Linked DNA regions of Homo sapiens: region 1 is linked to region 2. The links come from fine-mapping of genetic effects on gene expression. Tissue or cell type: whole blood. Region 2 holds a variant in brackets; the other region holds the start of a gene. All regions are shown on one strand. Distances are between the middles of the regions.

What was found.
Region 1: it holds the start of USP15, and the variant in region 2 is fine-mapped to the expression of USP15 in whole blood (TOPMed, PIP above 0.99).

The regions. Positions count from the first base shown.
Region 1 is chr12:62,259,147-62,261,646 of GRCh38, forward strand. It overlaps USP15 (ubiquitin specific peptidase 15), which reads left to right and starts at 1,258. Exons shown (of 22, transcript NM_001252078.2): 1 at 1,258-1,357. The coding sequence starts at 1,269. It overlaps MIR6125 (microRNA 6125), which reads left to right and starts at 1,213; the gene lies at 1,213-1,308. It also overlaps a transcript of TAFA2 not described here. RefSeq lists enhancers at 514-583, 1,134-1,493, 1,714-1,763, 2,487-2,500 and silencers at 844-903, 984-1,093.
Region 2 is chr12:62,201,376-62,204,395 of GRCh38, forward strand. It overlaps a transcript of TAFA2 not described here. Among named protein-coding and RNA genes, the nearest start is that of TAFA2, 10 kb to the left of the region's middle. The variant C/T (reference allele first, on the strand shown) is at 1,177.

The sequences.
Region 1 (2,500 bases), 58 kb after region 2:
AAAATGGGCAAACGAGAAATGATGTGGGGATTCCGGCCCATCTTTTAGACTTTTCACATCAATATGGTATGTTAAAATCACACCCCTGGACATCATGCTCGGGAATACTTAAGTAATTTTGCCACAATTCATTTACTAAACAAATATTTAGGTAATTTTTACATGTCCATCAGTACTGTGCTAACCACCAGGTGTACAAAGGCTAAAACAAAAGATGAACCCAGTTCCAGCTCTTAAAGAGTTTACATTTTAGTTCAGGCTTTCAGAAGGAGAGGCAGTGAGTGTGCTATACTGTATAGCATGTGGGCTCTTGAACCAGCCTCTCCACTCACCTCTCCACCTGCTGTGTGACCTTGGCATTTGATTTTTAAGCGACTCGATTTTCTATTTTGTAACATAATCGTTGACTTCAAATTAAAGACATATCTAGTTTCATTTCAGGTGTACGGCACCATACGAAGATGGGGCTAAGAAAATGTTACTATCCTGTATAAACAAGAGGGTTTCTCGCACGTTTTCTTCCTTTAGTATCTGGCATTATTCAATACTGTCCATATTCTACTCCCTGTTCACCGATGAACTGGGACATGTTTTTCACTGCAGCTTAGTCGTCTGGGTGTGCCTGGGGAGGCGTCACAAAGAGCCTATAAAGGGTCCCCACCTACAACGGGAGTAAGAGCGCTGGAAGGAACCCAGGAAGGGCATGGAGACCAAGCGTTCGGTTTCGGAGTGTTTTTTGTGTGTGCCCATATTCACCGAGCTTGGGTTCTCCCACTCGTAACGAAAAGCCCAGTCACTGAGCTGCTACATTTTCTGCCATATCTTAGCCGTCCCCACGCCCCCACACCACCGCCCCACCCTACCTCACCCTCAAGCGTGAGTGAATGCGCAAATAAGGGTTTTCAAGGCGTCAGTGGGAAAGAGGGAGGGGAAGGCAACGCTGAGGACGGGAGGACAGGGCGGTGGCATCCCTCTAGCGAGAGAGAGCCAGAGCCCTCGGCGGCGAGGAAAGCTAAAACCCGGCAGTCCCGGGCCAGAGGAGGCCAAGGCAAGATGCTGGACGGGCGGGGACCGATGGGGGGCAGCAGACCATGGCCGCGCACCCAGTGCGCCCCCGGGGCCTCCTCTTGTCCCGAGGAGCACCCCCGCTCCCGGTGTCTTTTGGTTTCGACCGGCCGACTGGGAGGGGCCGTGGGACGCCATTCCCATAATGCTCTGGGGCGTGCCGCCGCCGTCGCTGCCACCTCCCCTACCGCTAGTGGAAGAAGATGGCGGAAGGCGGAGCGGCGGATCTGGACACCCAGCGGTCTGACATCGCGACGCTGCTCAAAACCTCGCTCCGGAAAGGGGACACCTGGTAAGAGAAAGGGGTTGAGATGCCCGCGGTTGCCCGAGGATAGTGGAGAAGTGGGCGGGAGCCGCGAGCTGGTTCTTTCGCTAGTGACAGGTGCGGGCAGGTCCGGCGGCGGCCGCCGGGGCAGCGGGATTTTGGCCGCTTCTGAAATGTTGGGGCAAAGGTTGGACTCTAGATGAGGGTCAGGGTTCTTGGCTTGCCAGGGCATGCTGAAAGGTATCCGGGGAGCGGCGGCGGCGGCGGTTCTGACTCGTGCGGTTCTCTTCGTCCTCCTTCCTTCCGTAGTGCCGCTCCCACCTCAGGCCTTCCCGAATGATAGGTTATAGTGGTTTGGTTTGAGTCTTATATACGCCGTTTTGACAGGTCCCGGTGCCGCGGCTTATCACGATCTCACCGGCTTTACTTCTCTGTTCATTTCCTTTCCTAGAATTGTCGGCGTCCAAGTTCCCTTTTATTCTGATTCTTGGTCTTCCGGGAGGCAGGCTGCAGGATGTTTGCGGTCTGTACTACACAGGTGGCATGTCAGGGCTCCACATAAGAGAAAGAAACCCTAGTTTCCAGTTCCTTGTCAAAGGAGGGAGAGGAGTAGGGAACCTTGGGCTTATGAGAGACCACGTGGTCTTGTGCTTTAGTGGTGGCTTGATAGAAGCCGGCAGCGTTTCTGTTAGACGTGCAGCCCTTCCCTTCTGTTTGAAAGATAATGTAGGCCTGCAAAAAGTAGATAAGTCCACTTGAGGCTTAACTAACTGCTAATATTCAAACTTGTAAAATACCAAAGGTTATACATTTAAAATACTGAAGGATGTATGTGGACATTTTCACACTTGTCGACCATATCAAGTGGCATCTACAATAACTTAAATATGTGAATATGTAACATAATTTAAAATTCCTTATTTTTTGGGAAGCATAATGTGCCTCTTCATTATAATAAAACATATTTTCACTTTCCACTGTTACCATAACAGTAGTATATAATTCATAGAGTGTTTCAGTATGGCATAGTGAAAGGAACAGTAAGATTTAGACCTGAGTTATGTCACAGTTTCACCACTCAACTTGCAGTATGGCTTTGAGGAGAGTTAATTTAAATCATTGCACCTCATTATCTTCATGCTGTAAAATGGACAGTAATTTTATTATAAG
Region 2 (3,020 bases):
TCATAAAAGGTTCTTTTTATTTTGAGGTATGTTCCATCAATACCTAGTATATTGAGAGTTTTTAACATGAAGAGATGTTGAATTTCAGCAAAAGCCTTTTCCTATGTCTATTGAGATAATTATGTGGTTACTGTCTTTAATTCTGTTTATGTGATGAATTATGTTTATTGATTTGCATATGTTGAACCAGCCTTGCATCCCAGGGATGAAGACAACTTGATCATGGTGGATAAGCTTTTTGATGTGCTGCTGCATTTGATTTGCCAGTTGAGGATTTTTGCATTGATGTTCATCAGGGACATTGGCCTGAACTTTGTTGTTGTTGTTGCTGTTGCTGTATTGCTGCAAGGTTCTGGTATCAGGATGATGCTGGCCTCAAAAGATGAGTTGGGAGGGGTCTCTCCTTTTCAATTGTCTGGAATAGTTTCAGAAGAAATGGTACCAGTGCCTCTTCGTACCTCTGGTAGAATTCAGCTGCAAATCTGTCTGGTCCTAGGCTTTTTTTGGTTGGTAGGCTATTTATTATTGCCTCAATTTCATAACCTTTTATTGGTCTATTTAGGGATTCAAATTCTTTCAGATTCAGTCTTCAGAGGTTGTATGTGTCCAGGAATTTATTTATTTCTTCCAGATTTTCTAGTTTATTTGCATAGATGTGTTTATAGTATTCTCTGACGGCTGTTTGTATTTCTGTGGGGTCAATGATGATATCCCCTTTATGATTTTTTATTGTGTCTATTTTATTCTTCTCTCTTTTCTCCTTTATGAGTTTAGCTAACAGTCTATTTTATTAATTTTTTTCAAAAAACAAGCTCCTGGATTAGCTGATTTTTTAAGGGTTTTTCATATCCCTATCTACTTCATTTCTACTGTGATCTTGGTTATTTCTTGTCTTCTGCTAGCTTTGGGGTTTGTTTGCCCTTGGTTTTCTAGTTCTATTAATTGTGATGTTAGATTTGAGATCTTTCTAGTTTTTTTTTTTTCTTTTTGAGACAGAGTCTCGCTCTGTGGCCCAGGCTGGAGTGCAATGATACGATCTTGGCTCACTGCAACTTCTGCCTCCCAGTTCAAGTGATTCTCTCGCCTCAGCCTCCCTAGTAGCTGGGCACCCACCACCATGCCCAGCTAATTTTTGTATTTTTAGTAGAGGTGGACAGACTGGTCTCAAACTCCTGA[C/T]CTCAGATGATCCACCTGCTTTGGCCTCCCAAAGTGCTGGGATTACAGGCGTGAGCCACTGTGCCCGGTCCTTTCTAGCTTTTTGATGTGGCATTTAGTGTTATAAATTTCCCTCTTAATACTGCTTTAACTGCATCCCAGAGATCCTGGTACTTTGTCTCTTTGTTCTGATTGGTTTCTAAGAACTTCTTGATTTCTGCCTTAATTTCATTATTTACCCAGGAGTCATTCACGAGCAAGTTGTTCAATTTACATGTAGCTGTGTGGTTCTTTTTTTTTTTTTTTTTTTTTTTTTTTAGACAGTCTTGCTCTGTCACCCAGGCTAGAGTGCAGTGGTGCAATCGCAGCTCACTGCAACCTCCACCCCCTGGCTCAAGTAATTCTCATACCTCAGCCTCCTTTGTAGCTGGGACTAAAGGCACATGCCAACATGCCCAGCTAATTTTTGTATTTCTAGTAGAGACACGGTTTCATCATGTTGACCAGGCTCGTCTTGAACTCCTGACCTCAAGTGATTCACCCACCTCAGCCTCCCAAAGTGCTGAGATTACAGGCATGAGCCACCACACCCATCTTACATGTAGTTATGTGGTTCTGAGGGGGTTTCTTAAGTCTTGAGCTCTAATTTGATTGTGCTGTGGTCTGAGAGACTGTTTGTTATGATTTTGGTTCTTTTGCATTTGCTGAGGAGTGTTTTACTTCCAATTATGTGATTAAGTTTAGAGTAAGCGCCATGTGGCGCCAAGAATAACGTATATTCTGTTGTTTTTGGGTGGAGAGTTCTGTAGATATTTATCAGGTCCACTTGATCCAGAGCTGAGTTCAAGTCCTGAATATCCTTGTTAATTTTCTGTCTCGATCATCTGTCTAATATTGACAGTGGGGTGTTAAAGTCTCCCACTATTATTGTGTGGGCATCTAAGTCTCTATGTAGGTCTCTAAGAATTTGTTTTATGAATCTGGGTCCTCCTGTATTGGGTGCCTATATATTTAGGACAGTTAGCTCTTCTTGTTGAATTTAACTCTTTACCATTATGTAATGCCCTTGTCTTTTTTTAATCTTCATTGGTTTAAAGTCTGTTTTGTCAGAAACTAGGATTGCAACCCCTGCTTTTTTTGGCTTTCCATTTGCTTGGGAAATTCTCCTCCATCCCTTTATTTTGAGCCTATGTGTGTCTTCGCCCATGAGCTCAGTCTCTTGAATACAACATACCAATGGGTCTTGACTCTTTACCCAGCTTGCCATTCTGTGTTTTTTAATTGGGGCATTTAGCCCATTTACGTTTAAGGTTAATGCTGTTTTATGTGAATTTGATACTGTCATCATGATGCTAGCTGGCTATTTTGCAGACTTGTTGATGTAGTTGCCTCATAGTGTCTTTGGTCTTTGTACTTCAGTGTGGTTTTGTAGTGGCTGGTAATGGTTTTTCTTTTCCACATTTAGTGCTTCCTTCAGGAGCTCTTGCAAGGCAGGCCTGGTGGTGGCAAATTCCCTCAGCATTTGCTTGCCTGGAAAGGATCTTATTTCTCCTTTGCTCATGAAGCTTAGTTTGGCCAGATATGAAATTCTGGGTTGGAAATTCTTTTTTTTTTAAGAATGTTGAATATTGGCCCCCAATCTCTTCTGGCTTGTTGGGTTTCTCAGGAGAAGTCCACAGTGAGTCTGACGAACTTGCCTTTGTAGGTGACCTGGCCTTTCTCTCTGGCTGCCCTTAACATTTTTTCCTTCATTTCGACCTTGGAGAATCTGATGATTATGTGTCTTGGGGTTGATCTCCTCATGGAGTATCTTACTGGTGTTCTCTGGATTTCGTGAATTTGAATGTTGGCCTGTCTTGCTAAGT